Linked DNA regions of Homo sapiens: region 1 is linked to region 2. A link means that fine-mapping ties the variant in region 2 to the expression of a gene that starts in the linked region. Tissue or cell type: lung. Region 2 holds a variant in brackets; the other region holds the start of a gene. All regions are shown on one strand. Distances are from middle to middle. Region 1 holds the start of NTRK3 (neurotrophic receptor tyrosine kinase 3). Region 2 overlaps NTRK3 (neurotrophic receptor tyrosine kinase 3).

Region 1 (5,373 bases), 160 kb before region 2:
CAAGCTTCCAGGTGATATGGATGCTACTGGACAGAGGGCCACACTTTGGGTTTTGAGGATCTGGTCTTAACGTGGTCATTTTACAGATGGGAAAGCGGAGTCCCAGAAAGCTTGTCATTTCCCTGTGGTTAGAAATGAAATTCTGCTCTTCCCCACTCTAGTCTATCACCTGCTTTTTTTTTTTAAACCTTTAAGTTCAGGGGTACGTGTGTAGGATGTGCAGCTTTGTTATACAGGTAGACATGTGTCATGGGGTTTGTCGTACAGATTATTTCATCACCCAGGTATTAAGCCTGGTATCCATGAGTTATTTTTCCTGATCCTCTCCCTCCTCCCACCTTCTACCCTCTGGTAGACCCTCATGTGCATTGTCCCCTCTATGTGTCCATGCGTCACCTGCTTTTGAAAGGGCTTCCCTCTTTTTCAGCTGTCGCTTCCTGCTCAGGCCCAGAGTGTGAGCATAAACGTAGCACCCCATCTTAATCCCATTTTACTGTCAGGATGAAAGACTTCTTGCCCATCAGGGCCCCTTGCTCCACAATCTGCATTTTTACCAAATCCAGAGGGGTTTTTAAAGGTTTTTTGTTGTTGTTGTTTTTGTTGTTCTAACTTATGGATGTCTCTTCTTCTCTGCTTGACATGTTAAAAATCCTCTCTCTCTCTCTTTCTTTCTCTCTCTCTCTCTCTCTCAAAAAAGTGGGCTGGGCATCTTTTGGACACAACCATTTCAGTTCCAGGCTGGAGCACTGATGCTGGGCTGAATCCACTTGGCGTTCCCTGCCCAGGAGTGGTCTGAGAGAGGCTGTGTTTCTCTGCTGCCACCTGCCACCTCCCAAGAGAGGCCAAGTGTTAGGATCTGACTACACCTCAGTTTCCTGACTCTCAGATATTCTAAAGCCAATCCCAGAATGGCACTTGAAGTGACAGGGAAATTCCCAGTGGCCTAAGGACAGCCAGGATTGGCCTAGGGCCAGTAGCAAGTGGTTTGAGAGTCCAAGGAGGTCTTCACACTCTGTCCCCGCCTGCTGGTGGGAGGGCAAAATGCCAGTCTGGAGACAAGGCCATAATGGCGACGGGGGTAAAAATCTCCCTGGGGCCAAGGGAAGGTGGAACGTGACGGGAAGTCGGGAAAACTGCCTTGTATAGGCATGTTCTTTTCTTCCATTTTTTTCGTCCAAGTTTTTACTCCAAGCGACAGTGCCACCCGAAGGCGACCGGCCTGTTTGTGGTTGCGCCTGGGGCAGGCGGTGACACCGGCATACCCCTTCCCCCATCTTGCCTGCAAGTTGCATGACCTGCATCGGAATCCACAGGGGGGCGGGGGAGACTCCTTTCAGATACTGGATGCAGTTGAATTGAATTCAATGTATTTTGCTTCCTCGCCTGCCCTCCTCCAAGCTCGGGAAGGAGAACCCTGCTTTCTTCTGCGTGTGAATGCTGTAGTGTGTCTGCCTGCTCGGACTCCCCTAACCCTTTCTTCTCCTTTCCCACAGCGAATGCTCGTTTTTTTTTTTTTCAGCAAACAGCTCACACTTGGCATCTTTATGTTTTATTAAGAAAAAAATCCCTACCAGCGCAAAAGCGGGGCCCCCCCCACACACACTTCTTTCCCGGATGAGATCTGAGCTCTCGTCGAAAGCTGCACCTGCTTTGCGTCCCTACCAGGAAGGGGTGCTTGTGTGGGAGGGAAGGAGGAGGTTCTGCGCCCCCGAATCCGGAGAAAGCAGCCCGCCCGCCCCCTCACCCGGCAGCCAGCTCAGCTCACCCGAGAGCTGAGCCCGAGAAGCCGGCCTCTGACGGTGCTGGCGTGGCGCTTGCCAAAATATGCCCCTTGCATCTCAATTTCCCCCGGCCATTTCTCTTGCACGCACAGCTCGCCCGGGGCCACCTCGGCTCTCCAGCGCAGCCCTTTCGACCCCTGTTTCTTCCTTCCCCGATCCATGCCTGCTCAAGGCCGAATGCAAAACCCACCTCCAAGAAAGCGCAGCGGGCACGGGGGGCACCTAGCGTGCCATGTCCCGCAGTCCCCTCCCAGCCAAGACCAGAGCCCCAGACTCTAGATTACGGAAATGAGTGTCATTCAGACCAAGGACTGCGCGTCTGCGGTCCCGGTCCCCGGCTCTGGGTGCTTCTCTGGGGTGTCTGTGCGCTCCGGCACCCCCCGTCGCCGTCCGTGAGCCTGCGCCCCCCACCCACCCAGGCTTGGGAGCGCCCCCCACCCAAGGCTTGGGAGCACTCCCCAATCACCTCCGCCACGTTCATTTCACTTCCTACCGCGGTCCGGATTGCAGCAAAACCGGGTAGCGCGAGGGCCAAAAAGTGGAAAGGAGAGCGCCTTTCCGTGTCGTGCAGCCAGCTCGCCAACTCTCCCTCCCCAGCCCCGACCCTCGCAATCTCAAATGCAACTTTTTCCCTTCGGTCTCGGTTTCCCCCGGGCTGCGGCTAGCGGGCGCCGCGCTGCGAGGCGTGGAGCGGGCGGGCTGCCGCGAGGCTGCGGGTGGCGGTGCCGGCTACAGCCGCGAGCCGGCGAGTGGGTGGGTGGGTGGGTGGGGAGGAGGGAGAGGACAGGCGGGGAGAGAGACGGGTGTGGGGAGGGGAGGGAGGGGGAGATTCCGCTCTCCTGCCGCTCCCAGCCCGGGCGGGGGGCGGGGGGAGGAGGCCGCGACGAGGGAGGGGAGGAGGGAGGGAGGAAGGGAGGGAGGGAGCCGAGGAAGACGCTCCGATAACCCGTGCGTTTCGTAAGGCTCGGAGCACTTGTACATTTCTGCAGCCGCGCGGCGAGCCATTCGCGGCGGCTGCTGCAGCTCCTACTGCATCTTCCTTCTCTTCCTTTCCTCGGGCTCCGGGTGTGTGTATGTGTGAGAGTGAGTGTGTGTGTTTTGCAGGTGCGTGGTGTGTCCGTTTTAATTCTGCCCAGTAGGTGGGACTTGGTGACTTTAGCACCATTTTTTCCTTTTCCTTTTTTTTTTTTGCCTCCCCACCGTCTGTTGCAACCCTGCAAAGTCTCGGAGTCGGAGAGCGCGCCTCGCTTCCAGAGCCCCCGGACCCGGCGAGTCAGCGATCGCCGAGCCGGCCACCATGCCCGGCAGACCGCGCCACTAGGCGCTCCTCGCGGCTCCCACCCGGCGGCGGCGGCGGCGGCGGCGGCGTCCGCGATGGTTTCAGACGCTGAAGGATTTTGCATCTGATCGCTCGGCGTTTCAAAGGCAGAGGCCCCCCCTCCCCCTTCCCCCCTCCCTCGCCGTCTTTGTTTCCTTCCCCCCCTGCTCTCCCCACTCCCCCCACCCCACCCCCCTCTCCTCTCCTCCTCCTCTTTTTTAGAAGCAGCGATCGGAGATGGATGTCTCTCTTTGCCCAGCCAAGTGTAGTTTCTGGCGGATTTTCTTGCTGGGAAGCGTCTGGCTGGACTATGTGGGCTCCGTGCTGGCTTGCCCTGCAAATTGTGTCTGCAGCAAGACTGAGATCAATTGCCGGCGGCCGGACGATGGGAACCTCTTCCCCCTCCTGGAAGGGCAGGATTCAGGGAACAGCAATGGGAACGCCAGTATCAACATCACGGACATCTCAAGGAATATCACTTCCATGTAAGTCAGGCGGCCGCTCCCCAGCCTGCCTCCCCCGCGCTCTGCGTCTCCCTCCTGCCCACCCGCGGCCGGGAGCCGGCCCTCCGCCCGCCCCAGCTCGCCGCTGCCCGCCGCCCGCTGGGCGCGCGTCAGGCTCGCTCTGGCTCGGGAGATGCTCTCCGGCTGCGCATTCCAGGTGACTCCGGCCCTGGCGAGGCGCGATCCGGCTATGCGTGTGTGTGCCTCTCCCCGGAGAGGACCCCGGCCGCCGAGGGCACGCGGGGCCCAGCTACCGCCCGCCTCCCAACCAGTTGCTGGCTCGTTTCGATGGTGCAAATTGTTTTTTTTTGCTCCCCACTAAATAGCAACAGTTTGGCCACGCTCAAGTGGAATAAAGTAGACGAGGTTCGATTCTTTGGCAGAGGCGGCAGCGGCGGTGGCAGCGGCGGCAGCGCTTAGCCGGCAGGGAAGGTGACAGATAGGGACTGCTCGCGATCCAGCCGAGGTGTTTAACTATTTCCATTTGGAAACAGCAAAACATGCTGACAAGTAAACAAGTTGCGAGCTGGCTGCTCGCGGGGAGACTTTGGACGTGTGGAGGCCGTCATGGACGCCTACCTCTTCCCTTCCCCTCCTGCAGCCCGCCCTCTCCAGCCCCATTTTGGGCATTTCCGAGACACCCCTTTGCCACCCTCATCTGCATCTGGGCGCCTACAGATCCCTTCCCAGTTTGGGCTTTGATAACTGCTCGGAACTATTCCGAGTCAGGATGGCGCAGGGAGAGGAGAGGGCGTGTGTTTTGAGGAGAGGGGTTTCTTGTGTGATCGTGCGGATCGGTTCATTTGGAACATTCAACTCTGGCTGGCTTTTGCTTGGTTCTGCCCCCTCCGAGGGAGACCAGTGGTGGCCTGCTCTTTTCTCCTTGCTATTTTTCTTTGGTGGGGATGGCAGCAGACGCAAAGGAGAGGACAGATCGAGGGCTGGGGACTGGAGAGTCTGCTCCTCTTTTCTTTCGTTGACCTCGGCCAGGTGACCCCTTCCTAACCTACCACCCTGGAGAAGGGTGTGGACCATACTGGAATTGCTCAGAGGATAATTCTCACCTCTTTTCCCCCAAGGCTTCCAGCCCTTGGGGACCCTCAGCAATGGGTAGGCAGCTGAGAAGGGTTTGTGCTGAGGTCCTGGCCAAGGTCTGGAGGAAGGCATTTTGGGTGGCTCTTTACCCCTTCGACGGACTTAAGGGGGCCGGACCTGCCTTTGGTGCTGCTCTGGGAGCACCTCCCCTTGCTTCAGCCCAGGGCCATGGGGCTGCAAAGCCTGGAGGAATTGCAGTCCTGCTCTTTGGAAAGCCCACCAGCCCTCTCGGCTTAATGGAGCTTCTGCTTGCGCTCTCGCAGCTGACAGTTTGAGGGAAATGGATAGCCCAGGAGATGTCTCTGACTCCTGGCCCAGGAGACAAGCTTGACCCATATCTCAGCTCTGCTGTTCACCCCCTTACCCTCTTCAACCCGGCCAGAGATGACAAGATAAACAGCCAAGGGGCGGGGGTCAGCAGGGAGGGCAGGAGGAACAGGACAGACCCAACTGTGCCTCTCCCCCACTGCAGGCCACAGGCTTCCAGCATTCCCAAGGATGCAGGGAGAAGGGTTCAGAGTGAGACTGTTAGGGAAACTCAGACTTGGAAGTGCATTGCTGGGGCTGTATGTGTATGTGTGTAGGGGGTGGATGTGGGTAGTAGGGTGCTGGTGAAGGTGGGAGCTGAGCAGCCAGTCTTGGTGCTCAGAAGCCTGACCTAGAGATTGCCAGGGGT
Region 2 (5,373 bases):
TCATTATAGATTCTGGATATTAGCCCTTTGTCAGATGAGTAGATTGCAAAAATTTTCTCCCATTCTGTAAGTTGCCTGTTCACTCTGATGGTAGTTTCTTTTGCTGTGCAGCAGCTCTTTAGTTTAATTAGATCCCATTTGTCAATTTTGGCTTTTGTTGCAATTGCTTTTGGTGTTTTAGACATGAAGTCCTTGCCCGTGCCTATGTCCTGACTGGTATTGCCTAGGTTTTTTTCTAGGGTTTTAATGGTTTTAGGTCTAACATTTAAGTCTTTAATCCAACTTGAATTAATTTTTGTATAAGGTGTAAGGAAGGGATCCAGTTTCAGCTTTCTACATATGGCTAGCCAGTTTTCCCAGCACCATTTATTAAATAGGGAATCGTTTCCCCATTTCTTGTTTTTGTCAGGTTTGTCAAAGATCAGATTTTTAAGGTAGGAGGAGTTTATAATTTGATGGGACAGAGCCCCAGGCATTCACTCAGAGGGTCATGTTTTCAAGTGGGCAGGTTTCCTTTGCCTGAAAGGTCAGTACCCATGCAGTATACTTTTTCTTATGCCCTTCTTCTGTGACATCCTGGCTGCATGTCTCTTTTTGTTCTCTGCACTGCTGTCTGCTATCAGGTGGGTAAATTAGCTGAGGCTTGCTTGAATTCACAGAAGATGGAATGGTAAACTCTGTTTCCGCCATCTGAGGTTTACCAGCTCACTACTGGGAGTTGCTGGCTGCCAGCTCAGTTGTTAACTATGTAATACTTGGTTCCCCCCAGCCAGTATTTTCTGCATATGGCTCTCCAGATGGGAGCCCTGTGGAGAACAGGGGTGTTGGGAGGATCAGTCCTTTTGGCTGTTTGGTTATAACACACTTGTAATAGCACCGAAGCCTCTTGCATTGTTCTTTGGAGCAGAGCTTGATTCTCATTTTGCTTCTTTGCTGTGTGTGTCTCCCTTTCACAACAGAATCTTAGGAAAGCTTATATCTGAAAGGTGGCCAGCACTGGGGCCAGCACATGGGGGTTTTAGGGAACACAGGAGTGAGGAGTGAGCTTCAAGGAATTTGATGGGGAAACCTTTATCCTCATCACTGGAAGAGTAATTCAAGCTTAATTAAACAAGCTTAAACAATCTGTAGTTTAAGCTTTGTCTGTCCATTGCTGCCCTTGGAGTTAACTTTTAACCGTAGAGTCCTCAAAAGGCCAGAGAAGGTGCAAAGTATCCTTGTCAACTCCATGTCCCCCTCCCCAAATCCTGAAGCCTTTTCAGTAGATGTGTGTGGGGCTAGTCCATGCTGTCGGTTATCTCTAACTATGTGAACCGCCCCACCATAGCGTTCAATTTCCAGTTTTAATGTTTGTTTTTTGTTCATGTGAGCACTTAGTAACTATTAAGTCAATGTGGTCATAGAATAAAAGACAGTTGCTTTTAAGTTTCCCCCACCCCTGCTTTTGGATGCAGAATTGGAGACTCAGAGAGATCAAGTGACTTCTCTGAGGACAGTTTTGATTGTGGCAGACCCGGCTAGCACCCAGGCTCTTAGCTCCCGATGCCATGTTCCTACTGCTGTGGCATTTTGCACTTTTATGGACTTAAGTTCTAGCCTCTTTGTTTCATGAATCATTAAGAGTTTCAGGGAATACCTGGCCAACTAAGGGATGAGATCAGTCAGTAAAATGAAGGATCTAAATTTTGAATCCATGTTCCTGTTCATAATACACGTCTTTGCAGTCATTTCCCCTTGTCCAGCCTCTCTTGATGAGAGACTTTTTTAGCTTTTAGCAGGTACTGTAGCCAAAGCACCTTCTCTCTTCCATGTTCCTTCTCCAAATCATCTTTTTTCTTTTCATCAGCTGGACCATGTTTTCCTTTTCCCTTCCAAAGTCAGTCGTGCTCCACATTTTGACGGCTTTCCCTGGTTCTGTGAATTCCTTCCAAGTTGCTGCCATCTTTCTACTAATAAGCTGCCCAATACACTGTACCGGTCACCTCCCTGGAGCCTCTCACAGCCTCCTGGATGATCTTCAGCCTCTATTCTGGAAAAACCAAGGCTTACACACCACCCACTACAATGCTCTTTCAGCCCTGTGCTCTCCAGGTGGCCTTGGCTGTTACATCTTGTCGTTCATCACCCCTACCACCTTTGCAAGATTAAGGTGAGGTATATGAGCCCTTCGCTTTGGGCAAAAAATTTAAGAGGGTGCCACAAATTAAAAACCCCAGTAATCAAGACTTTTTTAAACCTACAGATTTTTTGCATTAATTTTGTTTTCATAGCATATCACATTACAGTATTATCTCTCTTGATTACTGAGTTTCTGAGCAGCTCCCTTGATTTTGGGCCCAAGATGAATGCCTGTCTTTCACACTCCATCTCTCCCATGTTCCTTTCCTCTTGGTTTTGCTCCTCCCCATCCTTTTCTGTAATTCCTCTAGTCTTCTGGCCCCTGCGGATTTATTCCTTGTGAATTAATGTTCTGTTTACATCTTCTTCCAGATTGTTAATAAAGATGTTAACACGTTCTCTAGGCCTCACTCCAACCTCGCCATAGCTGGCCCGCTATCTGGGGCCCTCTGCTCAAGAAAAGAAACTGCATTTTATCATAAGTTCTGTTGTTTACCGTCTCCTGGTGAGTATTTCCATCCCACCCAGGTTGCTGTTATCCTTGTCCAAGCGCCTTAATG[T/A]CTCATGCGCGAGGCTTGCTGAAGCTCCACGAGTGGCTTGAAAGATAAGCCCTTGTAAATAAAGCTTATGATCCTTGTTAATGTTGGGAGCTGATGGCATGCGTAGTCCAGCCAATTTGGATTAATTTTCCAAGGGAGATTTTGGTAGATGCTACGTCAACAGATTCTCTGAAATCCCACTCTCTCACCTTGCCTCCCTTTTCCTTGGCCACTCGCTCGTTTTTGCCAATTAAGAAAAGATATCACTTCCGTGGTGGGGTGTGATTTACTCTTTATAAACCCCGGTTGCTCTTCCGTGCTCAAAGTCCACTTGCTGCTTATAAACAGTGCTTTTCCTATTGGCCTTATCCTTTCAGTAGCAGCTTGAACTAGATTTACCTTTGTTTCTTTTTGTCAGAGGAAAAGATAGATTTTTATAACATAAATTTGGCAAAATGGAAGGACACTGTAGAATAAAACATCCTTTGCAAAAAGTACACACTTTTAGCAGTTCACATTTTTTAAAGAAGATAGTCGTTTTCTTGGTTCTCTGTTACCGAAGTAGCAAATGTCCATGAAACTAACTTGGGAAATAGAGAAAAACAGTAAATCACCCTTGTGCTAGCACCCCAAAATAAACACTGTTTACATCTTGGCACCTTTCCTTCTAGTCCTTGTTACATATTTATCATGCTGTAGATGCAATTTTGTGTCTTTACTTTCACATAGTATATCATAAATAGTCTCCATATTATTATGTAATCATTATAACCATCGTTTTTAAAGATTGCGTGCTTTTCAATCCAAGTAAATCTGTCTTTTTAAATTTAATCATTCCCCGTTTATTGGTCACTTAAGTTACAAATACTATTATCAGTAACAATGAGGTGAACATCTTTGTATGTATGTTTTCCTTAGTTAGGATTATCCTATACCTTAGATTCCTGGTGGTGGAATTACTATATTAAGCGTGAGGATAAACATGTTGCTAAAGTGTGTTAGAGAAGAGTTTGACCAATCAACAAAGCCTCTATCAGTGTATGAGACTATCTCTTCCCATTCCTCTTCTTGTACTGTGTAAAAATAGTTCTTATCAGTGCGTTCCTGTCACTCTAGGAGTTACTCAGGTAGACATATACATAATCACACTCTTCATAGTCCTCTGGTACATTTGTCATGCTAACAGCATTAATGATAGTAGCAATAATATCCCAACTGTTCTCTGACACACCTCTTTAACCAGCACTGTTCAATAGAAATATATTCCAGCCAAGGATGTAACGTTAAATTTTCTAGTAGACATGTTAATAATAAAAAGACATAGGTGAAATTGATTGTAATACTATATTTTATTTAGCCCAATATATCAGAGATGCTATCATGTCAGCCTGTGTCACTAGCCAAGTCTCAGGTGCTCAGTGGCCACATGTGGTTAGTGACCACTGTTGTGGATAGCACAGCTTTGAGCCATAAGCCTAAAGCACTACCAGACTCTCTTCTTTTGTTTAGAAAGGCTGTCAAATCCTTCTTTGCTTTTCAATCTTAGTTTTGGTTCTCCAAAAGTCAACTCTGAGATAAGGACTTGATGTGCAGGTAATTTATTTGGGAGGTGATTCCAGGATGCATTAGGGAGCAAGCGGGCAATATGAAAGGGAGATGATAAAGTCAAGAAAGAGCGTGACAGTGAGTGGATTGCTGCAGTGGGTAACTGGAGCTTAGTCCTGCTGGGGACCGTCTGAGAAACTGGGTGGCACCTGCCTCAAAGTTGCTCTCCACTGCAGATGCAGGGACTGGAACATGTATTTAGTGACTCCTGTCCTCCATTAATTAGTTATGGGTTGTTCCAGTGGTATTAATTACCCCACACTTCTGGGTTGTACCTGCTTAAGGCCAAGCTTGCTCTTACTGTGCTGGAGAAAGTCCTTAGGCAAAGAAAAAGGATGCAGGCTCTTGAGGTGGGTGTAGTTTGGGGGCTGAACTGCCTGCTGTCTTTGCCAGGAGACTCAGGTGGGCCAGGGATATGAGTGGGGCCTCAGCAGCACCTGCCTCTGGGCCTGTGTCATGGTGAAGTAGGGTCTTCTCCAGTGGGGCTTTTCCCAACCAGGTCATCCTTGGTTGATAGTCATCGTGGGTGATTCAGTCCATATTCTTTTATATAAGCCACAGAAACTGATTCTGGCTAACCAGGCAAAATGTAAATGATGGAGGGATGCTGGGGGCTCTCTGGATGTAATAAGGCCTGGAGGAGAGGGCTGGTCAGGATTGGGGATGGGAGAGAATAAGATTTTGTCCCATGCTGGAATAAACTGGCAGGACAGTTAGCATCTCGGAGAACAGCATGATTAGGATGCCCTGTGTTCCCTCCCTCTGTTTGTTCTGGGGAAGGAAATGGGGAGCAAAGTCACTTTGGCTTCCTTTTAGAGGTCACCACCTAAAATTATTTTCCCATTTATACTACACACAATAGAAGAAAGATAATTCCTTGATAGAAAATCAAATCGCTGTTAGGGAATGAATGCTGGGCTGCTAAAAATGGACAAATGACCACTGCAGAAGGAGATTGGGCTTTCTGGTGAAATCTGAGTAAAATTGGGCTGATTTCCTGGTTTTGATAATGTGTTATGGTTATGTAAGATGTTACCACTCAGATAAGCTGGGGCATAGGTACATGGGACCTTTCTGTACTATTTTTGCAACTTCTTGTGGCTGTATAATC

What was found. PIP is the estimated chance that this variant, and not a neighbour inherited with it, causes the effect.
Region 1: it holds the start of NTRK3, and the variant in region 2 is the best candidate, but not a certain one, in a credible set for the expression of NTRK3 in lung (TOPMed, PIP 0.57).

What each region holds. Positions count from the first base shown.
Region 1 is chr15:88,254,117-88,259,489 of GRCh38, reverse strand. It overlaps NTRK3 (neurotrophic receptor tyrosine kinase 3), which reads left to right and starts at 2,751. Exons shown (of 20, transcript NM_001012338.3): 1 at 2,751-2,846; 2 at 3,004-3,206; 3 at 3,322-3,584. The coding sequence starts at 3,337. The region is part of intron 1 of NTRK3-AS1 (NTRK3 antisense RNA 1); the gene reads right to left. RefSeq lists enhancers at 898-1,192, 3,533-4,069, 4,070-4,607.
Region 2 is chr15:88,095,779-88,101,151 of GRCh38, reverse strand. All of the region lies in intron 13 of NTRK3 (neurotrophic receptor tyrosine kinase 3), which reads left to right. Among named protein-coding and RNA genes, the nearest start is that of MIR11181, 150 kb to the right of the region's middle. The variant T/A (reference allele first, on the strand shown) is at 2,679.